Homo sapiens: one gene and its partners. The protein of the gene in region 2 interacts with the protein of the main gene of each other region in a pairwise test. Each region holds a gene or a part of one and is shown on either strand. Other genes may lie near its edges.

What was found.
Region 1: the proteins of DTX2 (region 2) and ECSIT interact in binary tests that used the Homo sapiens proteins (3 or more experiments, as listed by UniProt).
Region 3: the proteins of DTX2 (region 2) and TBX15 interact in binary tests that used the Homo sapiens proteins (3 or more experiments, as listed by UniProt).
Region 4: the proteins of DTX2 (region 2) and KLC3 interact in binary tests that used the Homo sapiens proteins (3 or more experiments, as listed by UniProt).
Region 5: the proteins of DTX2 (region 2) and PRR32 interact in binary tests that used the Homo sapiens proteins (3 or more experiments, as listed by UniProt).
Region 6: the proteins of DTX2 (region 2) and C1orf94 interact in binary tests that used the Homo sapiens proteins (3 or more experiments, as listed by UniProt).
Region 7: the proteins of DTX2 (region 2) and MSS51 interact in binary tests that used the Homo sapiens proteins (3 or more experiments, as listed by UniProt).

Annotation. Positions count from the first base shown.
Region 1 is NC_000019.10:11,522,635-11,526,134, forward strand, and holds part of ECSIT (evolutionarily conserved signaling intermediate in Toll pathway, mitochondrial isoform 1 precursor), read right to left. Parts: intron 1,220-3,500; exon of another isoform or gene 722-1,219; intron 1-721.
Region 2 is NC_000007.14:76,464,709-76,468,208, reverse strand, and holds part of DTX2 (probable E3 ubiquitin-protein ligase DTX2), read right to left. Parts: intron 1-3,500. UniProt on the Homo sapiens protein: Regulator of Notch signaling, a signaling pathway involved in cell-cell communications that regulates a broad spectrum of cell-fate determinations.
Region 3 is NC_000001.11:118,981,844-118,985,343, forward strand, and holds part of TBX15 (T-box transcription factor TBX15), read right to left. Parts: intron 2,036-3,500; exon of another isoform or gene 1,747-2,035; intron 1-1,746. UniProt on the Homo sapiens protein: Probable transcriptional regulator involved in the development of the skeleton of the limb, vertebral column and head. Acts by controlling the number of mesenchymal precursor cells and chondrocytes.
Region 4 is NC_000019.10:45,347,250-45,350,749, reverse strand, and holds part of KLC3 (kinesin light chain 3), read right to left. Parts: intron 3,304-3,500; coding exon 3,234-3,303; intron 2,810-3,233; coding exon 2,590-2,809; intron 2,105-2,589; coding exon 2,017-2,104; intron 1,931-2,016; coding exon 1,829-1,930; intron 1,322-1,828; coding exon 1,148-1,321; intron 914-1,147; exon of another isoform or gene 410-913; coding exon 319-409; exon of another isoform or gene 237-318; coding exon 199-236; exon of another isoform or gene 110-198; coding exon 3-109; exon of another isoform or gene 1-2. UniProt on the Homo sapiens protein: Kinesin is a microtubule-associated force-producing protein that may play a role in organelle transport. Plays a role during spermiogenesis in the development of the sperm tail midpiece and in the normal function of spermatozoa.
Region 5 is NC_000023.11:126,818,426-126,822,286, reverse strand, and holds PRR32 (proline-rich protein 32), read right to left. Parts: upstream 2,559-3,861; 5' UTR 2,444-2,558; coding exon 2,424-2,443; intron 1,629-2,423; coding exon 752-1,628; 3' UTR 501-751; downstream 1-500.
Region 6 is NC_000001.11:34,175,468-34,179,706, reverse strand, and holds the start of C1orf94 (uncharacterized protein C1orf94), read right to left. Parts: upstream 2,801-4,239; 5' UTR 1,918-2,800; coding exon 1,598-1,917; intron 1-1,597.
Region 7 is NC_000010.11:73,430,762-73,434,984, reverse strand, and holds the start of MSS51 (putative protein MSS51 homolog, mitochondrial), read left to right. Parts: upstream 1-1,423; 5' UTR 1,424-1,472; exon of another isoform or gene 1,473-4,223.

The DNA of each region.
Region 1 (3,500 bases), on a different chromosome or scaffold from region 2:
ACCTGGGAGGCAATGTTACAGTAAGCTGAGATCGCGCCACTGCACTCCAGCCTGGGTGACCGAGTGAGACTCTGTCTCAAAAAAATTAATTAATTAAATTTAATTAAATAAAAGTTACAACTTTAAACACTGAGGGGCTAGTAAAAAGAAAAAAGGTCGGGCACGGTGGCTCACGCCTGTAATCCCAGCACTTTGGGAGGGTGAGGCGGGTGGATCACGAGGTCAGGAGATCGAGACCATCCTGGTTAACACGGTGAAACCCCATCTCTACTAAAAATACAAAAAAAATAGCCAGGCGTGGTGGCAGGCACCTGTAGTCCCAGCTACTCAGGAGGCTGAGGCAGGAGAATGGTGTGAACCCGGGAGGCGGAGCTTGCAGTGAGCTGAGATCCCACCACTGCACTCCAGCCTGGGTGACAGAGTGAAAGAAAAAAAAGTTACAGCTGAATGTGCCTGCCTCTCCATCTACCTCCTCCACCACCTCTTCTGCCTCTGCCACCCCTAAGACAGCAGGACCAACCCCTCCTCTTCCTCCTCCTCCTCAGCTTACTCAATGTGAAGACGATGAGAATGAAGACCTTTATGATGATCCACTTCCACCTAATGAATAGTAAATTCAATGTGTTTTCCTGATTTTCTTAATAACATTTTCTTTTCTTCAGCTTATTGTAAGATTATAGTATTATATATATATATAACATTAAAAAATATGTTAATCACCCTTTCCCTGCCACTGCCGAGTTGCGCGGAGGCGGAGGCTTGGGTATGTTCAAGATTCAGCTTCACCCATAACCCACTGCCATGGCCGAGGGAGGCATTGCTGCTGGAGGTGTAATGGATGTTAATACTGCTTTACAAGAGGTGCTGAAGACCGCCCTCATCCACGATGGCCTAGCACGTGGAATCTGTGAAGCTGCCAAAGCCTTAGACAAGCGCCAAGCCCATCTTTGTGTGCTTGATCCAACTGTGATAAGCCTATGTATGTCAAGCTGGTGGAGTCCCTTTGTGCTGAGCACCAAATCAACTTAATTAAGGTTGATGACAACAAGAAACTAGGGGAATGGGTAGCGCTCTGTAAAATTGAGAGAAGGGAAACCCTGTAAAGTGGTTGGTTGCAGTTGTGTAGTAGTTAAGGACTATGGCAAGGAGTCTCAGGCCAAGGATGTCATCCAAGAGTACTTCAAATGCAAGAAATGAAGACATAAATCTTTGGCTCACATAAAAAAATAAGTTAATTGACTGTTATGTAATCACTGAGACCTCTGGACAACAGTGGGCTATTAGTAGTTAAGATTTTTTGTTTTGAGACAGGATCTCACTCTGTTGCCCAGGCTGGAGTACAGTGGTATGATCATGGCTCACTGCAGACTTGACCTCCCAACTCAAGCAATCCTCCCACCACTGCCTCCTGAGTAGCTGGGATTACAGGTGTGCGCCACCACACTCAACTAATTTTTACAATTTTTATAGAGGCTGGGTTTCCCTCTATTTTCCAGGCTGATCTCAAACTCCTGGGCTCAAGCAATCCTCCCACCTCGGCCTCCCAAAGTGCTGGAATTACAGAGGTGAGCCACTGCACCTGGCTGGATTTTGGGGGTGTCAAAAGTAGCCTGGCAGGGTGGCTCACGCCTGTAATCCCAGCACTTTGGGAGGCCGAGGTGGGCAGATCACGAGGTCAAGAGATCGAGACTATCCTGGCCAACATTGTGAAACCCCATCTCTACTAAAAGTATAAAAATTAGCTGGGCGTGGTGGCAGGCGCCTGTAGTCCCAGTTACTCGGGAGGCTGAGGCAGGAGAATCGCTTGAACCCAGGAGGTGGAGTTTACAGTCAGCCGAGATTGCGCCACACTGCACTCCAGTCTGGATGACACAGCAAGGCTCCGTCTCAAAAATAAATAAATAAATAGAGCACCCCACTGAAGGCTGGGCACAGCGGCTCATGCTTCTTATCCACTTTGGGAAGTCAGAGTGGGAGGATCACTTGAGCCCGGGAGATCAAGAACAGCAAAAAGAAAAAAAAAAAAGAAAGAAAAAAAATACCAGCTGGGTGTGGTGGCACTCATTTGTAGTCCCAGCTACTCAGGAGGCTGAGGTGGGACGATCACTTGAGCCCAGCAGTTCAAGGTTATATGAGCTATGATTGTGCTACCACACTCTGGCTTGGGTGACAGAGTGAGACCCTATCTCAAAAATAAAAAAATAAAAAATAAAAAGCACTCTGGCCAGGCGCAGTGGCTCATGCCTGTAATCCCAGCAATTTGGGAAGCCAAGGCGGGTGGATCACAAGGTCAGGAGTTCAAGACCAGCTTGGCCAAGATGGTGAAACCCCGTCTCTACTAAAAATACAAAAATTAGCGGGACAGGGTGGCGGGCGCCTATAATCCCAGCTACTAGGGAGGCTGAGGCAGGAGAATCACTTGGACCTGGGAGACAGAGGTTGCAGTGAGCCGAGATTGCACCACTGCACTCCAGCCTGGGCAACAGAGTGCAACTTCATCTCAAAAAAAATAAATAAATAAAAATAAACATAAAAAGCACTGCAATGACTTTCATATGCACCTAGGATTAAGACCTTAATTTAAATTTTCAGGGCCAGGCTCGGTGGCTCATGCCTGTAATCCTAGCACTTTGGGAGGCCATGGTGGGAGGACTGGTTGAGCCCAGGAGTCCAATACCAGCCCTGACAACATAGCCAGACACTGTCTCTATAAAAAAATTTAAAAATTAACCAGGCATGGTAGTATACACCTGTCTGTGTTCTCATTCCTTGGGAGGCTGAGGTGGGAGGATCACATGAGCCTGGGAGGTCCAAGCTACAGTAAACCAAGTTCATGCCACACACTCCAGCCTGAGCAACACAGCAAGACCCTGACTCAAAACAAAAAAACAAAAACAAAAACAAAAAAACTACAGCTACTTAAAGTGTGTTCTAGGGACTGGCAGTGTCAGCAACATTTGGAAGTTTATTAGAATAGCAAAATTTGGCCGGGCATGGTGACTCACGTGTGTAATCCCAGCACGTTGGGAGGTCCAGGCCAGCTGATCACCTGAGGTCGGGAGTTCGAGACCAGCCTGACCAACATGGAGAAACCCTGTCTCTACTAACAAAAAAAAAAAAAAAAAAATACAAAATTAGCCGGGTGTGGTGTATGCTTGTAATTCCAGCTACTTGGGAGGCTGAGGCAGGAGAATTGCTTGAACCTGGGAGGCAGAGCTTGTAGTGAGCCAAGAGCACACCATTGCACTCCAGCCTGGGCAACAAGAGCGAAACTCCATCTCAAAAAAAAAGCAAAATCTCGGCCCTATCCCAGACCTACTGAACTGGAATCTGCATTTTTTTTTTTCCCAGGCGGAGTCTTGCTCTGTCGCCCAGGCTGGAGTGCAGTGGTGCAATCTTGGCTCACTGCAACCTCCGTATCCTGGGTTCAAGCAATTATCCTGCCTCAGCCTCCCGAGTAGCTGGGATTACAGGCACATGCCACCATGCCTGGCTAATTT
Region 2 (3,500 bases):
CAGCACAGCAGGCAGCATGCCAACAGCACCCGCCCCTGGGAAGCCCCAGGTGCTCCCCAGAGCCACACCGGGCGTTGATAACATTCTCTGCATCCGGGAATCAGGCCCTGGCCTCCCTCTCCCCTCCTCCCCTCCTCTCTCCATTCCCCCCGGATCCTCAGGATCTGTTCCCATGGCTTCAATATTCCCTTGCATACAGATCACCCAAAGCTGTCCTCGGGATGCCCTGCCCGAGCCCCTCAAACCGTCAGCTCCTGCCATCTGGACCTCCTGGCAGTGCCCAGGGCAGGTCAGGATGTTTCATGCCCTTCGTCCCCCACTGAGAATGCCCATCGCACTTGTCCACTTACTCATCTCTTAATTCCTAGCTCAAGACTCTGCCCTGTGAGATCTTTCCTAAGTTCGCTCCCGCTCCACAGGCAGAAGTGGCCACTTCTAACAATCAATGCCCACATGACGTCTCAGTGCCATTATCTGTCTCCTCCACTGGAGAATGCATACGCTCCTTAAAGGCAAGGGTTATGTTCAGGAAAAGACTTCAAACCAGACCCAGAAAACTGAGTACTAGGGAAAAAATACATTTCGCTATGTTAAAATGAAGAATGGCTGATCAACAGAAGACACCTTAAAGAAAGAGGAATAATAGGTTAAAAGCTGGGAGAAGATATTTGCAATAGACACGAAGGATTAAAATCAGCAATATATAAAGAGCCCTATAGATCAACAAAAAATAAAGCACCAAGAACCCTAATGAAAAACTGGCAAAAGACATGAATATTTCACAGGAAACACATATGCCAATAAACATAAGAGGAGATATTCAGCAGCAGGGCTCAGGGACCTAGAAACCAAGTTCCCAAAGATTCCATTTTCTACCCATTCACTTGGCCAACAGCAAATGTTGGTAAGACTGTGGAGCTGCAAGACACAGGACACTGCTGGTAAAGTGGATACTGGTATAAGCACTACATTCAGGAAATGGTCTAGCAATAGCTACGAAAGATGAACACTGCCGAGCATGGTGGCTCATGTCTATCATCCCAGCACTTTGGGAGGCCAAGGCGGGTGAATTGCTTGAGCCCAGGAGTTCAAGACCAGCCTGGGCAACACAGTGAAGCTGCCTCTGCACAAACTTTAAAAATTAGCTAAGCATGGTAGCCTGTGCCTGTAGTCCCAGCTATTCAGGAGGCTGAAGGGGATGGATCCATTGAACCCAGGAATTTGGGGCGGCAGTGATCCGTGATTATGCCACTGCACTCCAGCTGCCTGGGTTACAAGGTGAGACACTGTCTCTAAAAAAAGAAAGAAATAGGCCAGGCGCGGTGCCTCACACCTGTAATCCCAGCACTTTGGGAGGCCGAGGCAGGTGGATCACCTGAGGTCAGGAGTTTGAGACCAGTCTGACTAACATGGAGAAACTCCGTCTCTACTAAAAATACAAAATTAGCCGGGCATGGTGGCGCATGCCTGTAATCCTAGCTACTCCGGAGTCTGAGGCAGGAGAATCGGGAGTAGCTTGAACCCGGGAGGTGGAGGTTGCAGTGAGCCGAGATCGTGCCATTGCACTCCAGCCTAGGCAATAAGAGTGAAACTCTGCCTCAAAGAAAAAAAAAAAAGAGACAGAGAAACAAAGAAATACACATGTAAGATAAAACTAAGAAAAAAATGAAAGAAAGGAGATAATGATTACCTCAGGGTAAGAACAGAAAACAAGTTCAAATGAAATGATTAGATGTTCTAAGGGGACCTGATAAAGTAGAAAACTTTTTAAAGTTTTTTAAAATTAAAAAAAAAAGATTAGATATATACTTTTGTTTCATGATCCCAGCTTTTGTTTTGGGTGCCTAGATTGCCAGAGCTTACTACATTTATTAAAAATAACTTACTAAATAAGGAAAAGTAGGTCAGGCATGAACACTGAGGAGTGTGTACTAATCAATCTTGTTCTCAGCTTAGCTGATAAGGCAAACACCAAAGAGACTGCTGAATTCATCTTTGTACTCCAAGTGCCAAACACAAGCCTCGGCGCACAGAATTTCGGGAGGCATTTGGGGAATGAATCAGGGCTCTTCTCTCTAGCCCATGGCCTCATTTCCTGTTGGCCTCTTAATACCTTCAACACGTCTGAGGCCAAACGCATCTTCCTTCCTCATTCTCCTTTTCCCCCTGGATTTCCCCCAGGCGGCCAAGAGAAAAACCTCAGATTCTCAGTCCTCCGCAGCCCGCTCCCCCAGGCCTAGCAGCTGCCTGCCCTGCTCTCTCCTCACCTCTGAAGCCCCCTGCTAACACCTGGCCGGGACCCTTATGCCTCTCACTTTACCCCCTCCCTGCCGGGCGCAGTGGCTCACGCCTGTAATCCCAGCACTTTGGGAGGCCTCGGTGGGTGCATCACCTGAGGTCAGGAGTTCGACACCAGCCTGGCCAACAGAGGGAAACCCCGTCTCTACTAAAAATACAAAAATTAGCCAGGCATGGTGGCAGGTGCTTGTAGTCCTAGCTACTTGGGAAGCTGAGGCAGGAGAATCACTTGAACCCGGGAGGTGGAGGTTGCAGTGAGCCAGGATGGCGCCACTGCACTCCAGCCTGGGTAACAGAGCGAGACTCCATCTCAAAAAAACAAAACAAAACAAAAAAACAAATAAGTGCTCCCTCCCAAACAGCTTCTCCAACTCTGCTTTCTAACCCTCTTGTACATCTCAGATGGGGGGGCAGAAAAGATTAAGCTTCCTGAACTAACGTTCTGATCTTGTCTTTTACACACCTCCCCTGGATCTCTAGAATGAAATTCAAATTCCTTAGGCTGACAGTCAAAGCCGATCACAATACCGCCCTTCCCTCGCTATCAACAATATTTGCCGGTGCCCTTCCCTTCCATCCCCTCATCTATACCTCCCTCTCCACAATTCCCTTCCAGAGTGTAAATGAGGATCCACTACTCCCATGTGCATCAGCGTGTCTGTCCCCACCCCCATGACTCTGCTTCACCCTGAATCCCACCCACTTGGTCCCCTGTCCTCACCTTACCCACCCTTTTATGGCCCAATTTAAACAGCACTTCCCACGATGCCTGGATGTGCCCAGCAGAAAGCAAACACCCTCTAAATCAGCCAGGCATGATGGTGTGCACCTGTAAGTCCAGCTACTCGGGAAGCTGAGGCACAAGAACCTCTTGAGCCTGGGAGGTGAAGTTGAGCAGTGAGCTGAGATTGCACCACCGCTCTCCAGCCTGGGTGACAGAGTAAGACCCTGTCTCAAAAAGTAAACAAACAAAACAAAACAACAACAACAAAAAGAATGAAAGAAAACACCCTCTTAGCAAGTTCCTTTTCAGTTCTCTATGTTCACTTTATCTCTTCAACTAGACTATAAGCAACTGAGGGCAAAACCACTCACCTGCCTCTCCCCACGAAGAAGCTGGCATGATGTATGTAAGAAGACCGCCACAAAGCGAATAATCCAGTCTAAACCCATTCCACATGTTCCAGTGTGCTCCATTAAAA
Region 3 (3,500 bases), on a different chromosome or scaffold from region 2:
GACCCCTGAGTATGTCAGTCATGCACATATAAAATTCCAGACTTACTAGAAACCAGGAAAAGCAAAGCAAAAATAAACTACACGGATGAGAAAGAGTAAGGAAAAGAGATTCCACATTCCACCAGTTCCTTAGTTTTCCCTTTTGTGAAAAGTATCTCAAAAGGTCAAAACATAAAGCTCAGATGGGAAAATCATTTAAGTATTTTCTCCTATTGAACAACTTTATCTTTTGAGAGTAAGAAAGCAATAACCAGCTGCACTCCCAGAATAATAATCGAATGGAGTCCTGTTTCCAGAAAGGAGAAAGGTATATAGCATGCCAATCTGCCCTTTATCCCTGTGGAATTTGTACAGTTCGGCCTTGCTTTAAAAAACAAAAAACAAAGAAAAAATTATAGCCACCCTGAGAAGGAATTCACAGATTTAAGAGGTAATTGTTTTTCTCCCGGGTGTGAGAAATAAAGTTCTACCAGAGTCTATAATCAGGATCTCAAAGCGATCCTCTCATCTTATAATTTTTTTGGCAATAGAACGATTGTGATGGACCGGAAATATTTCACTCAATAATAGCATTGCATGCCCTAAGAGAGGACTGGATGAACACAATGTTTAGGCCTTCTAAGCCAAAATGTAGTTGTCCCTTTCTCCTTGTGGCCTAATATGAGGGTTAATGACGAGGAACTCGTTTCCATGTTTACACTCATGAAGCACATTATACAGATAAATGGGGAACACAAAACACAATACCCAGTATTTTTAGTTTTGGTCCCCAGTTTAGGCATTGCATGCCATTCTTCACTCCTCACATGCTGTCTATATTAAAAGATTTTAAACAAATTTTCTTTCATAATTAAAAGATTTTTAACCATTTGAAGTCATTGGTATGGGAGGTGTCAGAAAAATGGCAGACGATTTGTGTCAGCATCATTTCAGTCTGAACTCCTGTTTAAGAAATTTAATTCTCCCTTCCTCCCTGCATGAAGGTTGCCCCCATGAAATCTTCCTTCTGGGAGTTTCACCTATACAAATCAAGATACCCAAAGTGGCAAGCTCAGAGCCCAAATATAGTGCTCAGCAAGAAATAACGTTGAGTTGGGAGTAGATCTGAATTTAGAATTGCAGCGGCGGTAGACTGTGTGTGAAGTTGCCTAGGAAAGCCTTCGCTGCCCATGAGGTTTGTGCTTCCCCAGCGGGTCTCTGAGGTGCAGAGGTGGACGCCAGAGGCGGGTGAGGGGTCGCCCTGCACTTCGTGGCAGCAAAAGGAGAGACCCGCACACCCCCTTGTGATCCCTGGGTCTATCATTACTGGCTTCTGAAGCGCGGGAACCTAGGGTGGGAAGGGACCTTTGGAGATGCAAACCATAGCACATTTTACCTTCCTCCCTATCACAGTCCAAACTCTACATCTGGGTTTTCCCATTCTCTGAACTTCCCATTGCCCTAGTGCAGTTTGCTGTGGTCATTTCTTTGGGTGGGAACAGGTTACAATTACTTCCCTTTGCCTACTGGTTTCTATTGTGCCACCGCGCCGGGGCCGGAGTTTTACATAGAATGTCTTCATAACCATCCCCGCTGCCCGGGAACCCAGCCCCGCGCACCCAAAGGGCGTCTAATTTAGTAAGATCCGATCAGTGCGCAGAAAAAGGCCCTTGGCGGTCATCCCCTCAGCGAACAATAATCCTCACTGGCCCATGACAAACTCGGGCCTTAGATCCCTCTCGCTTCCCTTCACACAAGGTCACTTACCAAAAGGGTGACCTCCGTGGAAGACCGTTTTAACCTGACAAGCGAGTACCTTGCGTAAGTCCACCAGGCCTCACCCTTGACTCCTCGGAGCCAGGCACCTCCAGGCCAGCACCAGTGCAGGGGCGTGCACGGCAGAGACAAACCAAGGTTCCTTGTCCCTGGACTCAACCCCAGCAGACCCTCCGGCATCTCACTCTACGCGTTCGCCGAACACCCTGTCCCTGCGGTCTGAGCTCCGGCCTGTGCCCTGGCTGGCGCTTGCCCCGCGCAAACACAAACACATTCTCCCCCGCTGGCTTGAACTCATCACTTTTTATTCGTTACTTAAACGTCAGTAAAGAGTCACTTCCTCCGTGTTCACCCTGTTACCCTATTGGGGGTTGGAGGTTGGTAGAGAGGTGATGTCAGAATTAAAATCTCTGAGTTTTATTTTGAGCAAACAAACCATAAACTGGCAGATTAATTCATGTGACCACTTGATCTAGATAACTCCAAAGAAGAAAGTGCCCTGGGGCGGCCGCGCTTTCTGCAAGGGCTTTTCCTATCTCATTTCACTAGCAGTTGAGCTGACGGGTGCGTGCGAGAATGCGAGACCTGCCACGTGTACACGTGTACGCGGAGTGTCGATCTGCCTGCGTGTCCTTGGATGTGCCTGTCTAGGTGCCCACCCGCGCGCGCCACCACATCCCCAGGCCTCTGGAACGCAGCTGCTGTGTGGCCCGGCCCGAAGTTTCTGGAGGAGGAAATCCCTCCACAGAAGGTTTACATTATTTCGCTCCGCGGGAGACCCGGCTTCGGCAGCACTTAGCAGAAGATTTTGGCGGGAAAGGCCCAAGCCCTAGCTGAGGACTCCGGGTGGAGCAGGGGCTGAGGTCCGAGCGCAGATGGCGCCGCCGAGCGCCTGAAATATACTTGCAAGGCCGCAGCAATATACTTGCAAGGCCGCAGCCGGAGCAGCTGTTCCAGCCGATCCTAGCTCGAAAGTTCCTCTGTTGCTCTGGGAGAGGGCGGGGGAGAGCAGGCTCGAGAGCCAGGCTCCTCCGAGGCTGGTCTTGAGGCACTTCTCTAGTAGCTTCTCCAAAAGACTGAGAGTGCCGGCGTAGGTATGACAGTGAGGGTACCTCACAGACCCTTCTCCAAAGTCTGGCGGGCCTTGGGGTTTTTCGGGGCCACCAGGCTCGGTGGAATTTTTGAAACGCTTTCGAAATACATAGTTTCCTCTGTGGAGTGAGTGCCTACAACGCGCAGGCCGGACTGATCCCCCGTTGCTGCAGGTTGGTGCCCCAAGCTGCGGGTGCTCGGGCGCCAACTAAAGCCAGCTCTGTCCAGACGCGGAAAGAAAAATGGGCTGTGAAAAAGCAAAAGGCCTCGTCTTTGAATGAAAGTTAAACATTAAAATCTGACCCTAGAGTTGTCTAAAGATCGCGGAATTTTGAAGCTCCGGCAGAGCGGACTAAAAAACGGTGCTATGAGAGATGGTGAGAATACTCTAGGCATGAACGTGTGCGTGTGTGTTTGTGTGTGTGTGTGTGTTTCATTCTTCCCGCAAAACAATTTTTTGTTTTTTTCCTATTCCCGGTTTGTTATCGGCCTAGGGCGGGAGAACCACGCAGCGGCTTCTGGGCCCTAAGGACAAAAGAGTTAAAACAATGAGGCTCACCCGGGAAGAGACGCTGCCCTGGGCACAATAGGGTCGCCTGCATTACTCCTCCATACACACATCTTTAAATGTGTCCCTGTGTGTGTTCGTTAGG
Region 4 (3,500 bases), on a different chromosome or scaffold from region 2:
ACCCGGCTGCTCCTGCCGCCGCCTCGCCTCGGAGCCGGGAGACCAGCTTCTCACTTCCTCGCCTGATAGACTCACGGATCTTGGAGAGTGAGCTGCTGCGGCGAAGGGCCTGGGGAGGGGCCGGGGATGCTGCTCAGTCCCCCAGGCCCATGCAGTCCCCACGCCCACCCCAGGAGCCGAAGCACAGCCCATCCTCACCTGTTCTGCGTCACCAGCTGTGCCTGTGTTGGGGGCACCTAGGGGGAAAGATGGGGGACACTGAGATGGGGACATAGAGAAGCCACCAGGAGGGAAGACAGACAGGGGCTAGGGGCTCACCGAGAGGGGCGGGTAGGTCCTCCTTGTGGAGGATTTCTTTGTACAGCTCTTCCGCTTGTTGATACTTGTTCTGTTTCAGGTAGGCTGAGGCCTGCGGAGAAGGGAGTGTCTGGGAACTTTTCGGACCCCAGTTCCCAACACTGCATCCAGTCCCGCCTTTTTTTTTTTTTTTGTAGAGACAGGGGTCTTGGTATGTTGCCCAGGCTGGTCTTGAACTCCTAGCCTCAAGTGATCCTCCTGCCTTGGCCTCCCAAAGTGTTGGGGTTACAAGCGTGAACCACCACGTCTGGCCCCACTTTCTAATGTGCTGACCTGGCCGTATCCTTCCCCTGCCTAAAGCCTTGCCCTGGGGCAGAGTGGGTTTGGAGCTCGGCCTTACTTCCTGCCCTGGGGATGGAGGACAGGCAGCCTCCTGTTTCTGAGCCTGTCTGCTGTACTTTGGGCTGGTGGCATGGCCTCGGTGCCTCAGTCTTCCCACACGCAAAGTGGAGCGACAGCTCCCACCTCATAGGGACGCTATAAGAACTAGCGATGTGGGGACCGGGCTAAGAGGGGAGCCGGCCACAGTGAGCTCAATAAATGTCTGCTGCTGCCACCTGTGCCTGCCAGCTTCCGCTTCACTGGCTGTCCTCTGGCTGCCGTGGACTTACGCGTTTCCTGATTCCGTGTTCTGTGCTGAGCCAGCTCCTGTGTCTGACACTTGCTCCAAGGGCCCGGCCTGGGGGGCCCCCCCCCACCCTCACGTTGCTCACCCTGTATCCAACCAATGGGTGCCTCCCCAGGGCAGGACCCTCCACTCTTGGCCCACTCTGAGCCCCAGGGGCCTCACCAGGTTGTTCTTGGTCTTGGCCACGTTGGGGTCATGGGGCCCGCCCAGTGCCTCATAGATGCTCAGGGCCCGGGCATAGTGCCGCTCCACGTCCTCAAACTTGCCCTGGTTCTGGCACAGCAGGGCCAGGTTGTTGAGCTGCTTGGCCACATCTGGGTGGTCAGCACCCAGGACCTGGGGGCCAGGGGTCACAAGTCAGAGGGATCATACAGGATTGGTGGGACACGTGACATCACTGCTGTATGGTGGTCATGAGTTGGGGATTACAGGGTCAAAGCAGAGAGTGACCTGAGAGGTTGGGGGCTGGGGACACAAGTTATACCATCTAACGGGATTACCAAGGTCAGAGGTCATGGTGGTCCAGAAACGTGGGGCACAGGGTGAGATGGGTAGGTCAGGGTTGGGCTTGTGCTGGTGGCCATGAGGGGTTGGAAAGGCTATGGGGGGACCCAGTTGGAGGGTGATGTGTGAGGTAAGGCGAGAGGTCAGTCAGGGTCAAGACCAAACTGGGATCTCAGAAGGTCAAGGGTGATGGGTTGGGTGATCTAGGCTCCAACTGGGGTCTCCCAATACCAAACGCAAGGGGCCCGAGGGTCAGGGTCACGATGTACGTGCTCAGCATCCCTGGGGAGGGCTACATGGGACAAGGGGTTCCTCGGGGTGGGGTGAGGGGGATGGGACCTTCTCTCGGATCTCCAAAGCGCGCTGGCACAGGGGCTCTGCCTCCCGGTAACGCCCACGCTTCCCATAGAGGACAGCCAAGTTGTTGAGCGTGGCGGCCACCTGCGGGGTTGGGGGAGGCACAGGTCAGGGATGGGCAGGTGTGGCCCCACTTTGACCCCACTTCGTCTCCCTGGGGCCCCACTCACCGCGGGGTGCTCAGGGCCCAGCGTCTGCTCCCGGATCTGCAGGGCATCATGGAGAAGGTCTGTGGCTTCTTTGTACTTGTTCTGGTCCCTGTGGGGGGCGCCCCAGGAATGGAGGGGGTTAGCCAAGGGTTGGGGCAGCTGCAGCCACAGGGGCTGGGCCAATCCTGACAGGCCCAGGGAACCTGGCTGAACCAAGCATGGGTGGCACACCCTTTGAGGGCCTTTTGTGGGCCCCTCCATATTTCGCAATTCTCTAACACTGGGCCCTGTACCCCCAGACCTCTGCCAAGCTTCTAGCCACCCCAGGTCTCCTGCCTGCTCTGTTGGGGTCCCTGGTGTCCGTGCTCTCTGACTCCTCTCTGCCTGGCTCAGTGGCCCCCCCAGATCCCTGTCCCACTCCCTCTTTGCCGTTCTCACAGCAGGAGCCTTCCCTTCCTTTCCCATTCTTGCTGTCCCCTCCCCTGACCTCCCTAGGTGCTCCATGGTGACAGAGGGGGCACCAGGATCCTTCCACTTGCACCCAATGGGTCCCTGCCGTTCCTGCCCCCAGCCATGGCTGGCCGCAGTGCTCACCGGTACACCAGCGCCAGGATGTTGAGCATGGTGGCCACGTCAGGGTGGCAGTGGCCCGAGCTGCGCTCCAGGTCCTCCAAGGCCTGGCGGCACAGAGGCACCGCCACCTCATAGCGGCCCTGCCCCGCGTACTGGATCACGAGGTTATGCAGGGTCCGAAGGCGGGCAGGGATCTCATAGCCACCCTGCTGAGCAGCTGCTGCTCCTGCGGCCTCAGGACCTAGGTGGGGTGGGGTGGGCTCTGGGTCACTGCAAGCCTCCTGCCCCTCCAGCCTCGCATGAGGGGACACGTGCCTCAGAACTGCCGGACTGCCTAACTGGCCCCTGGGACTATGGGCCCCCACGCTAACTTCTGAGATAGGAGTCACTAGCATCTAACCAGCTGGTGGGATGCATCCTGGCCTCGGGACAGGAACACGGCAGCCCACCTGCCCTGTGGGATGTGAATACGGGGCCTGCCAGGCTCATAGCGGCTACCCTGTCTTTGTGGCTCCCAGCCTCACCTGCACTGTCACATTCAGGGTCCTCCTCACCCTGCCCTCACCTCCCCATCCCCTGGCTCAGAGATTTTGGGGTCCTGCAGCTCAGAGCCCCCTCCCCACCCTGGCCTGCCATCCTCTGTGGCATGTACTCCCAACACCCACCTTTCCTCTCCTCCTCCTCGCTGGGGAACAGGGAGGCCAGGCTGTCTCGGCGAGGCGGGGACTCAGACTGCTGCAGAGACAGGAAAGTGGGGGGCCGGGGTGGTGGGGGCTTGTTTCAGAGACCGGGGCCCTGGCTCTATCTCAGGTTTTTGTTTTTTTGTTTTTTTTTTTTTTTTGAGACGGAGTTTCGCTTGTTGCACAGGCTGGAGTGCAATGGTGCGATCTTGGCTCACAGCAACCTCCACCTCCTGGGTTCAAGCCATTCTC
Region 5 (3,861 bases), on a different chromosome or scaffold from region 2:
TATGTAATTAGCAACAAGGAAAAGTTGAAACACAAACACCAGTTCGTGTTGAAGCAGTGGTCTAAGAATACTCTTCCATCTTCCCTCCTCCTTCTTTCCTGACTTTTCAACTTGGTTCTGCCTATGACTGCTAAATGTTAGCTCTATTACTCTCACCTCAATCTCATCTGGCTTCTTTTACTGTTTGTTCATTTTTCTCTATTATCTGAACTTTAGGCTGCCTTTATGGAACTTTTCTTAATTCAGCCATCCAGCTCTAAGCACCCCTTATAGCCTTGGGTAGATAGAGATTCCCCAATCTAGCCTTGGCCTAGGAAGAACCTAACCACCCTTCCCCAGTCACACTGCAAGACAACTCAATAGAAAATAGTAACAGTCATTTAACTAAGCCATTTAGAAAACACTGACAGGTTTGTTTCTGCTTTAATTACCTTAAAGATAGAACACAAAATCCAAGGCTTTGGTTCCTGGGGTGTCATTTTGAAAAATAATTTACAGCATTTCAGACTTCACAATCTTTATTTAATCTCCAGTATGTAGGGCACATTTGTGCTAAACAGAGTGTGGTAGGGTACAAGGTTTCAAATAGGGCACATTAGTGCTAAACAGAGTGTGGGAGGGTACGTGGTTTCAAGTAGGGCACATTAGTGCTAAACAGAGTGTGGGAGGGTACAAGGTTTCAAATATAAAAGCATAAATGAATAACTTTCACCTCTTTCCACAACCCTTTTTTCATCCTTCCTTTTTGCCATCAGCTGTGCTCTCTGTTGGGTGATGCAGGAGCTGGCATTCCCCCAGAATGGAAATGGGCAAAATAAGAAGGCAGTGGAGGACCAAATATCGGAGGAGGAGCAAAAGGAAGAGGCATAGTGAGAAAGGGATTGAAAATCGGAGGTCGAGGAGGGATGAAACAATGAACAGTAGAGCAAGAAGGTAAACCTGGAGTACTGGAAGACAACGGGATAGGCCTTGGCCAATTATGCATGGGGTGGCATGGGCCCCTGAGTGGGAAAGAAACATGAGCCAGCTTTCCTCTGCAGGCTATTCGTGTATTTCCGGGCGGCACCTCCATTACTATCCCTGATCTAAGGGTGGGAATATGTGAAGGGCCTCTCACTTGTGGGCCCCTGGGTGGAAAGAACCCTTTACCTTGTGGCAAAGCTACATGCAACCTTGCGTTATTACTGCCTCTCTCAGTGCCCCCATTGTTGACCTTTGTGCCCCCTACTATCAGTGCAGGAGGGCCGCCAGAGACTTCCCAGGACACATTAATAGCATCCTGTCCCTCCTGCCTCCAGCCTGCCAGTGCATCAGAGCTGTTTACTTCTGCTGTTGCTAGGGACTCTTCTGCAACAGCAGGTGGTGGCCCGTAGGGGTGTCTATGAGCTCTCAAGCTATGAAGAGGAATGCAGGATCCTGTTCTTTCAGAGGGCCACTCCAGTTGCTTGCTATCCAGATCAGTCAGCACATTGACGGAAGGTCTCAGCGGTACTTGAGGTTGACCCCAGGGCTCTGCGTCATCCTCTGGCTTGGAACTCAGACATTGCAGGGGCATGTCGTGGTGCAGCTCCTGGTTCCCATTTTTGTCCACAGATACTACCAAGGGTGAAGGGGCGTGCCCTCCAAGGCTTGCAAAAACAGAAATCAAACAGCTAATAAAAATGGAAATGCACTGACCAGAAAATAGCTACAATATGTAATTGACTGAGCTCACTGAAATATACCAGGGAAAAAAGGAGTGCCCTCTCCCCTATATGTAGCCAAATACTTGCTCAGCGCTCTGGCCCCTTCCCAGGTGGCTTCTTTAGTACTAGGCTACATGATTACCCTTCATGACTACTCAGTGGCCTATTTCATTCCTCATTTCCCCACCTCCACAAGGCAGCAAGGAAGCTTAGAAGATGCACATAACTTAATAGTAAGCATATAATAGAAAATACCAGCTTTTTCAATTCTCTCTAGGATCTATGATTCACTAATCCTGGCATTCAGATTCTGGCAAGATTGTTCTGGTATGTCTTCCGAAGTAAAATATCTTTTTCTTCACAGAAGTCAAAGAAAAGTTAGTTATGTTAACAAACACACAAGTTTCTCTTCTTGAGGTATCATTCAACACTCACACCAAATTTTGTTAAAAATTCTTTCATTCAACCACCACCACACCCTAGAGTAAGAATTTCCTCATGTTTAAACCCCACTGTTTAGACTAGGGATTTGTAAATTTTCTTTCAAAATTACACTTCAAAGTTGCCACTCTTAAATCCGGTATTCTTAGTAACTAAATTTATGTCCTTCAAGTTTTTGTCTGTAATTTCCTCCCACATCTCCTCCAACCCATTCATCCCTGTCCCAGTTACACAATAAAGCAATTCAAACTGACTTTGCCTTCAAAATTAAACAGTTGTACTCGGTTTTGTACTTACACGTTTTCAATACAAGCCATGAAGAAATTTGATCAGAATAGCTTTCCTGAGGTGGTGGAGATAACCCACTGAACAGGCCAGCTAGGTCTGGAGAAATGACTCCTGCTTCTGCTTTAGAGGCTTGGCAACTAGAATGAAGCCAGGGACCAACTGCTTCTTTCTAGATTTGGAGTTCTCTTTCTGGGGTTACCAGTTGCTAAGGAAGGGAGGGAGAAAAGGAGTGGGGAGGGGGGTGGGTGGGGATGAATCTGTGACACTCCTTTGAACTTAAATGTGGGACTGGTGTTTGCACAGTAGTAGATGGATGGTAAAGGCATTCACTACATTAATTCTGATGCAGGGCAGTTGGAAAGACAAATCATTTCAAGAAGGATTTAGAAGAATCATGGAAGCATGATATTTTTTAAAGAGTTATTTATGAAGTTTTAGTTTCTACAAGGTAGTTGTCAAGTCTCCTCAAATTTGGAAACACATTGAGCAGAGTATTGTGCCTAATATTGTAACTTAAACTTCCAGTTTGGGGATGCATATTATTAACTTGGTGGAGAACAGAGGTTTGGGGGCTAAATTGCTTTTCTATCTGTGAAGATGAAACAAGAACTCCTCTAAGAATCATTGTGACATTATTTTTTAGCCCCTCACGTTGCAGTTATATCCTTCATCTTGTCTGTTAGTTTATAAGCTCTCTCTCTCTCTCTCTGTCTCTGTCTATGTCTGTGTGCACGCGCGTGTGTGTGTGTGTGTGTGTACGTGTGTGTATTTCCTGTAATAGAGCTCTGGAAGTTTCTCTCAAGTTGGGAGGGTCAGAATAAATGGCATAACAGGTATCATAAATTTATAAATATTAGCTTAGGTTTGGCCATGCAACATTTTTGCATAGGGAACTTTCTGTTTGTCCAGCCTAAATTTCATTTTAAGCAAGTTTACTTTCCCAGCTTTCTTTTCTGCCATTGATCTACAGATTAATTGCTCCGAAATTACAACAACCATTCCATCATCCAAGACAATTACTGTTGCTCTAGGACAAAGCCATAAACTTGGCAAACCTGCCTAAATTTACATAAAATTTGTGCTGTGCAGGCTAGACCTGGGAGATTGTGTCTTCCTTATTTTCAATATTAGTATATGTTGCTACAGTTCAACAGTAATGTATATTTCTTTTCTCTTAAGGAAAGATAACAGACTCAAATACCATGTGCTTCAATTTTTAGATATATGGTGTCTGTGTATCTGTGTGTGTGTGAGAGAGACAGAATAATGCATAAGTACAAAGTACTAATGTAAAGGAATGGTCACTACTGCAAATCAACACAACTCATATAGAAGTAACCTTTGGGGTCTGCAAGTCCACATCTTCCTGCCAGAGTGTGTTGTCTCCATCTATACAAGAAAGTGGCATGTTTCCAACATATTTTCCAGAAGAATCTGTTCACTTGCC
Region 6 (4,239 bases), on a different chromosome or scaffold from region 2:
AAGAGCAGCCTGATTTGTATAATGCATCTTTCATTTCCCTGTCTCCCATCACATTGGATCCTCATTATCAACTCTGAGGTAGACAAGGCAGCACATATCACCCTCAATTTGCAAATGAGGAAGTAAAGGCCAAATGGAGTTAAGCAGCTGGCCAAAGGTGCACCAGTTCAATTTTCAGCCAAGTGCAGACTGGAAGTCGAGTCTGTCTCCATTAACTCTGTGTGACCTGGCAAAGAGGATGCCATCTACTGGAAATTGCTACTGACCCTTGGTCCACAAAGTGGACAATCAGCTTCTTGGCCATTGAGAGCAGAGCACAGCCCCATGGGCCCTCCTGCCAAGGCCCTGTCCCAGAGCAGATGGCAATGAGCAGGGGAGAAGGGCTCAGTGCCACTGAAGGGCCTGACAGCAGGATTTTAGCTGTAGATGGGCCATTCCTGTCTGAGCCTTGTCATGCTGAGCACAGGGCAGGGAGGCAGGACTAGCCAAAGTGCCTTCCACCTTCATCTGCAGTAAGTAAATGAGCCCACAGAGGGACAGCAGGTAGTGTAGAGCTGGGTGTCATTTACACTTTGCTTTTCTTCTTAGCTCTTGCTTAGGCATCCCTGAAACCCGAGGCAGCTGATAAATGCCTGAATGGCTCCCCAACTCCAGAGCATCTCTGAACTGAGCTGTAGCATGTGTTGGAGCAGGCAACACTTAATTATCGGTTAGTCTTTAATTAGCTCTTAATTATTAACACTTAATCCATCTGTAAAATGGGGACACTAATACCTGCCTCACAGGGACTCTGGGAACATTAATTAAGTTTACAGTCCACTTTGAAGATGCAAAACGTGAAATAAGTAAGTGCTCAACGGCGGTATTAATAACCACAGCAGATTTACTTTCTTTTCCTAATTTCCCTTTTTCCTCTCTGCTCCTTCCTTTCCTTTCGAATATCCATCCTCAACAATATCTGCCCAACTTTGCCCTGATGGAGAAACACTTAGCTCTGTGTTTCCCAGACACAGGATTTCCCATCCCGGAAACGGGCTATTTACAGCCATCTTCCCGCACTTTAATTTTCTATTATGTCCTCTGAATATGTCAGTGCCTTCCCAGTAAATATTTTGATGTGTGCTCTTGCAGCAGCTTCTGTGGAGGCTGAATGGGACAGCTGCTCCCTGTATTAGGGAATTCCAGATGTGATTTAAAACCATCAGACTCATCCATGTGAATGCCTAGCCTTTAGGTGGGAGAGGGGAAGGATCTTCTAGTTGCTTCTGGGGAAAGCCACAAGCCATATAACCCTTAGCCTTAGCTAGGGTGGTTTTTCAAGGACCTCAGATTCACATGCGTTTAGGATGAGAAATGTCTGCTTAACGGGCTGGTGAAGAGGCAGCCTGGAATATAGCCCTAATCTGACTCTTCACCCACAAAACTTCAGAACTTTGGTCAGCTCTTCTATAAAGCTTGGACAAAGGACCATGGAGGGGGCAATATACAGCCTTTAGGGTTTCACCAGCCTCAACAGTGGGCCAGAACATTCCCCCAGAAGGTCAGACTTCATCTCCTCCCTCCTCCCTTGCTGCCAATGGAGTAGGGGGGTACTTACTCTTCTTGAAAGCTGAGCTCATTGCCTCTTAGAGTTCCAACCACAGGGACAGAGAGCTGCTCCATGGAGGTCCAGGGCTGTGAGGCCTCAGGCAGGCCTTGAACTCTCTTCCAGATTTCATGGCAAGTCTTGTCTAGGCTGTCTTGGGGTGTGTCCTGGTGGATCCAGATGTATCTGGGGAATGGGCCCAGGGCGCAGGGGCCCTTGGCCACCAGGGCCGAGGATGAAGGAAGCCCATTCCCGCTGGCCATCCTCCTCCTCTCTTTCTGGAAGCCCCTCTGTCCACCCAGGGCTAGAACACAACCACCACCACCCCTCATTCACCAGAAAGGGAGATGAGGATGGGGCTTGGCAGAAGTGGGTCAGTTCTGTCTGGCTTTCGCTCCAGCAAGGTGGTTAGGTTCAGAGGCCTTCTATTTGTGTGGGAGGGGTGGGTGGAGGACAGCTTTCTTTTGGGGAGGGGAGGGCTTATTTTGATTTGTTTTTATTTGCTCTTTCCTGACTTTTGCCTCCCTCCCCCTCTCCCTTAGAAGAAAATATTTAAAAGTCAACAAAAACCAGTAGCTTAGGAACAGTGGAATGCTGCGGAGCTCAGGAACCAGGCGCCTGGGCGGGCAGAATGACATCTGGGAACAGCTGGAAGGGGAGGGCTGGCTCTCCCCACAGTCCCTGGCACTGCCCCCTTGCGACGCCGCCGTGACAACTTTCGGCGCCTGGGCTCAGCCCATGCTGTCCCGCTAAGCCACGCGGAGGACTGGGTGCGGGCCTGGCACCATTGTAGGCACTCGGGGGGCGGGGCCCCGCAGGAGGCGCTCGCCTGGGCGTTCCCAGGGAGCCCCTCGCAGAGCGAGCGTCAACGGCCCGACTCCCACCCCCGGCCCAGGTCCTGCTTTTCTCTCGCCCTACCCCTCCTGCTCCCGGTCTCCCGCTGCTGCTCTGCTGCCCCCGGAAAGAAGGGATGAGGCGTGTGTGGATGGGCCCACAGCCCTTAGTCCCCGGCCCCCAGCAGACCCCTGCCCCAGCCGCGCCGCGCTGCCAGGCGGGCACCGGGAAGGGCCCAGCGGCTCAAGAGCGCGCTGACTCGGCAAGGCAGGCTGGGCCGGGCGGCTCCCACCAATTTGCCTGCCAGTAGCTCCCACACCCTCGCCGTCGTCGAGCGGGGGAATTCTTTCTGTGGGTTTCAAACGCAACGGCTCGGTGCGCGGGGCGCCCTGGGTTCGGAGCCCAAGACCCGCCGGTGGGGTGGGTGGGGGTGGGGCCCAAAGGACCCCAGAGCGCTTCGGGGGATCAGAAGTCAAAGCCAAACGCGCCGCCGCCCCACTTCGCCGCTCCACACAAATCTCAGCTCCTGCCTGGGGGTCCCCCGGCAACCTCGATTTTAATCCTAACTGCCATTTTATGGGGCGCTTGCCCTGTGCCAAGCGCTGGGCTCACATTCAATCCTATTAAAGCTCGTGAAATTAGTACCACTTTTTATTATCGTTCTACACGGGAGGAAAGCGAATCTCAAAGTCATAAGGGATTGCGTCCAAGGCCCCCTGAGAAAAGGGAAGCTGAGACTCAGACCCCAGCACTCTAGGCCTGATCTAGCCCTTGACCACTGAGACAGCTTCAGTAGGTGGGTAGGAGCAGGAGTAGGAGGTCCGAGGTGCAGGGAGAAGGGCTAAGTTAGCTGTTTGCTGATCAACAGGCCCCTACCCTCACTGAAGCGGCTTCATTCAATTGGGCACTGACACAGTACCTCTGCTGAGGGAGACTTTCTGGTTCCGAGAGTCAGGGGGTTGCTTCTCTAGCAATTCCCCTGAAAAGGAAAAGCAAGAGGGTGGAGACGGAAGAAAGAAGAATGGACACAAATAGAGGAAGATGGCAGTCTATAAATGCAGGGCTGGGTTGAATCCTGACACTCATTTCCGAGCTGTGTGACCTTAAGAACTTTCTGAACTTCTCCCATCCCCATTCATAATTCCCCCAGTACTGATGCAACCCCTCCTCTGTGCCCGATGAGTTGCTGGGCACTGAAGAAGCATAAGGGTGGGCAAAAATGGCATGGTCCCTGCTCTCCTGGAGCCTGTATACTAGCGAGGAGAGATCGATGCAAACCAGCCAAGCGAGTAAAGCAGCAATAATTACAGATGCAATGGGACTCTGATGGAAAATAACTATTAGGTTGGTGCAAAAGTAATTGCGGTTTTTGCCATCACTTGCAATGGCAAAAACCACAATTACTTTTGTACCAACCTAGTAACAAAGTGAGGCACTGGGGAGAAGAGGGGAGGCAATATTCCATGGTGGTCCAGGCCGACTTCTTTGAGGAGAAAAATTTGAGAAGGATGAGAGGAATTCCTTTTCTGTAAAATGGTGTTAATAAATTATGAGGATCATGTTTCTGGCACATAGTAGGCACTCAAAAAATATGTGTTGGATGAATTAATGGTATACTGTATGTAAAGTGCCTGGTATACAGTAGGTGCCCAATACGCAACCTTGCTCTTTACAGAGGGGCTGAGTTCCTGGAAATGTTTACTCTAAATTTTGAAATCTGAGCTTCATTCTCCTTTGATTTTCATTACAAAATTGAAGATGTGTTCCTTTGGGGAAAATTCTGAGGGCCTAGACTGAATAAAATTATAGTTAAGAATGTA
Region 7 (4,223 bases), on a different chromosome or scaffold from region 2:
TATATTCATTGACAACTTCTGAATTAGAAAAGTCAATCTCTGATGTCTTGTATCTTCTGCAGTTCAGCCATTATTAACAGAACTCAAAACATTTGAGGTTCTCAGATAAATTTTGAAGCCTGTTAAATTTGAAGTTGGCCTGAAACTTTTGCACAAAGTGAATTACCCCTATTTTATTTAGGGTTTTTGCCTATTGCAACTGATTTTCCTTTATCCACAGCTATTCTACATAATGTTATGCAGTGTTTGGTTGAATCCTTAACACTTTTCTTCCACCTTCCCTGCATGTAGTTTGTACTTTTTACAGTTTGGGGTTCCTGTGTGGATTTGATTTGCCACATTCCGGGACCTCATTGCGAGTGATTCTGTTCCCCAGTTTGATGATGTTCAAAGAAGCAGGTAAGTGAGAGCTGGGGTCAGATATAAGCAGAAAGTCAGAACTTTTTTATTTAAAAATTTTAAAAAAATTTTTTGAGGGTAAGAAAGATCTTGCAGTCTTTTAGGACCACTGCCCTAACAACTTCAGATAGGCTAGCTGTAAGTAGAAAGAAGCTAGGACTGTGGAATTGAATTTCCTGGATCAGCTGCAATTACAAGGAGGATAAGAGAATGGTTGAGCTGATTCTTTTCTATTTTCTTTTCCTAGAAATAGTATGTATTTTTAGTCATTAACTAGTATTTTGGTTTTGTTTAATATCCCAGAAGCATTTATTCCTCTCTTAATACAGGTAAAGTGCTCCTGATGACTCTCTCACTCAGAGAGTTATCTTACCCTTCTTTCAGGGAAAGTGAATTTTACAAGTTAATTCTGCATGTTTCCCCTACAACTGATTTCATTCTGTACCATTAAATGGCCATTTATTTTCTCCCTTCTACTTAATCCAAGATTGGACATTGTTGAGTTTTGTTTGAACAATGTTTGTTATGCTGAAAAAGGACACCAGGCCTGGGGGAACTCATCCTGTGTCTAGATCAACAAACAGAACTCCAGAGGGTCCTCTGGTTCCTCCCACTTGGTTGGAAAGGTGCTTACCCTTTCCAATCAAATATTGACTTCTGCACTAATCCAAAGGGTTTTCTTCTGAAGCTGTAAACTGAGAACAGAAATATTGCCTTGAGTGAGAGAAGTCTAGGAAGCAGCAGGTTTCATTTTTTGTCAGCCTGCCTGGCCTTTACTTGGCTAACACTTGGGAGTGTTGACAGTCCTGAGCCCCCTTGGCAGAGAACAAAGGTTAGAGAGAAGCCCTCAGGCAGGGGGACAGATCCCTCTTTGCCTCATTAGGGAGAATTCAGCCTTGTCTGTCTGGTTGGCAGGGCACACTTAATCACTGAGACTCAGCATTTCAGCAGTTTGCAAAGGAAAGTGATATGAAGGGACAGCTGCAAGTAAGCCACAACCTAGATCTGAAGAGATCAAGCACTCATTTCACTTGGAGGAAAGAGAGAAGGAAGGAAGCTGAGGACTTAGCAGGGTAAGTTTTTTTTTCCGTCAACCTGTCTGCTTGCTTAGTTTATAATTGAGTAAAGTATTTATCACCCCAGGCAGTGTTAATCACTGATTAAACAGCTGAATGTGGCCATAATTACAGTGTCCTTAATGTATTTCTCCTTCTCTTTTCCTACCCCCTTATAAGGATCTCCAATGACCAGTTTCAGTCTTCCTTCTCCCTACCTCTCCAAAGACGTTTTGCATTTTTTGGTGACTTACAGAAAATTAGATGAGCACTCCTTATCTGGAGATAGTGAAAATATGACTGTAGTTTAGGTGAAACTTGGGACTCTTGGTGGTAAAGAAGAAGATGGGAAACCTAGGTCTAGGAATAGATTAATATTTTGTCTTGAATTTGGACATGAAGGATAAAAGTTTTTCTAGGCAATCAAGATCATGTCTCCTCTCCAGTTCTTGGTGTTGGTGTTCTCTCTCTTATACTGGGACTAAATTAGAGCCTAAGTCACTGGGGATGGCTAGAAAAAAATGAAAGGGATTCCCTTTCTAAGTGGAGAGCATTCTAGACTCTGGAAAGTTCAAAGAGCTTACTGCAATTCTTTCCAGCTTCTCCTGTGAGTCCCCTGTTTTTTCCTTTGTTTCTCTCAGTTTATAACCTGTGAACAGGGAGTAGCCTGGGGCTCTTTACAGGAGATTTAGAACCAGGGAAGCTGTGTCTGGGCCTGGGGTATATAAACTCAAACATGAACCTGATGATGTATATAGATGCAGATCAAAGACCTGGCTTCTCACCCACCTTCTTTCTTTTCTGCCAGAAAGCTAACTCATTTGTATCATGAACATTGTGCTCTAGACACAGAGGAGACTGTGACATTAGGGATTTTTACCACCACTCCTCTTCCTCAAACTGTGTGATCCTTTTGCTTTCTGACCAGTTCAGCCAACTCCCAGATTGCCAAGAGCTAATCTTCCTTTAGAGGAAGACCTCACCTTGGAAATGCGGAAAAGTAAAGCAGTACCTTTCTGACCTTAAGTGGCTTGCTTCCATTGCAGCAAAAAGGCTTATGTTTTAACTTCAGGGAGATATCTATTATAAATTCTGGGATTTAAGACCCTAGAGTTGTCTCAAATCACACTTTCCTTCCATACCTATTTAAAAAAAAAAAAGTCATTCTTTCAAGGTTTAAGAAAGTGGTGTCTTGGCCGGGCGCCGTGGCTCATGCCTGTAATCCCAGCACTTTGGGAGGTCGAGGTGGGTGGATCACGAGGTCAGGAGTTCGAGACCAGCCTGACCAACATGGTGAAACCCCATCTCTACTAAAAATACAAAAATTAGCTGGGCATGGTGGCGCGAGCCTGTAATCCCAGCTACTCAGGAGGCTGAGGCAGGAGAATCACTTGAACCCGGGAGGTGGAGGTTGCAGTGAGCCAAGATCGCACCACTGCACTCCAGCCTGGGTGACAGAGTGAGACTCTGTCTCAAAGAAAGAAAGAAAAAGAAAATGTTATCTTGCCTGAGGCAGGTGGGTAGAGTAGATAAATGCTTTTTGTAGAATGGCAGTGATTCTGAAAATGCAATGAGAATGTGAGGTGATTAAAAGTGGAGGACAGAATGAGGTTAGTTGTTGGAAATTGGGCCCTAAAGTGTGAAGGGCAATTCCATTTACTCTTTTGGTAAAAGGACATGACCCTTAAACCCTAAGATAATCTAATATCATTAGGTCCAATTTCTTCATTGAAGGTAATATATAGGATATGGTATACAGATGAGCTTGACTATTTCTGTTCTGTGGACTGAAACCATCCATTCACCCATGGGATAAGGGGAGACATTAAGAGGGTGGATGGAAACATAAGGATGAGGAGATAGAAAGTACAAAGGAAAATACAAATTTGTTCCTCCATTAACCTGAGGACAGGTTTTTAAGAGTCATGTTGTAAGATATGGATATGAGCTGGATAATTCTGGGAGCTTTTTGTTTATTTTTGCCACCTGCATACACCTCAGCTGCATGATGATTCTGAGGTTTTTCCTAACAGATCTGATCTAGAAGGATCAAATGTCAGATCATTTTTGTAACAAAACATGATCCCTGGTTTGAACTTTAACAGTTTCCTCATTCACACTGCCAGCGTTTTTAATCCTCTGTTATTTCTCTGTACCTGAAGACAATCTGGGGATTAATAACTTTTTAGCCTCTCAATCTCTATGAATACCTTCCTTCCTTTCTTTTTTAATCGAAGTGAAAATCATATAACATAAAATTAATAATTTTAAAGTGAGCAATTAAATGGCATTTAGTGTATTCACGGTATTGTTCAACCATCAATTTTGTCTTGTTCCAAAACATTTTTATCACCCCAAAAGAAGACCCCATAACCATTAAGCAGTTACTCCCCATTTTCCCTTCCACCCAGCCCTTAGCAACTACCAATCTGCTTTCTGTCTCTGGGTTTACCTATTCTGGATATTTCATAGAAATGGCATCATACAACATGTATACAACATTTTGTGTCTGGCTTTCTTCACTTAGTATAATGTTTTTTGAAGTTCCTCTACATTGTAGCGTGTATCAGTATTTCATTTCTTTTTATAGCTGAATAATATACATCTTCATATGTATATTTATATCCCAATTTGTTTATCCATTTATCCATTGATGGACCTTTGGGTTGTTTCTACCTTTTAGCTGTTGCGAATAGTGCTGCTATGAACATTCACATATAAGTATTTGTTTGAGTATCTGTTTTTAAATATTTTGGGCACATACCTAAG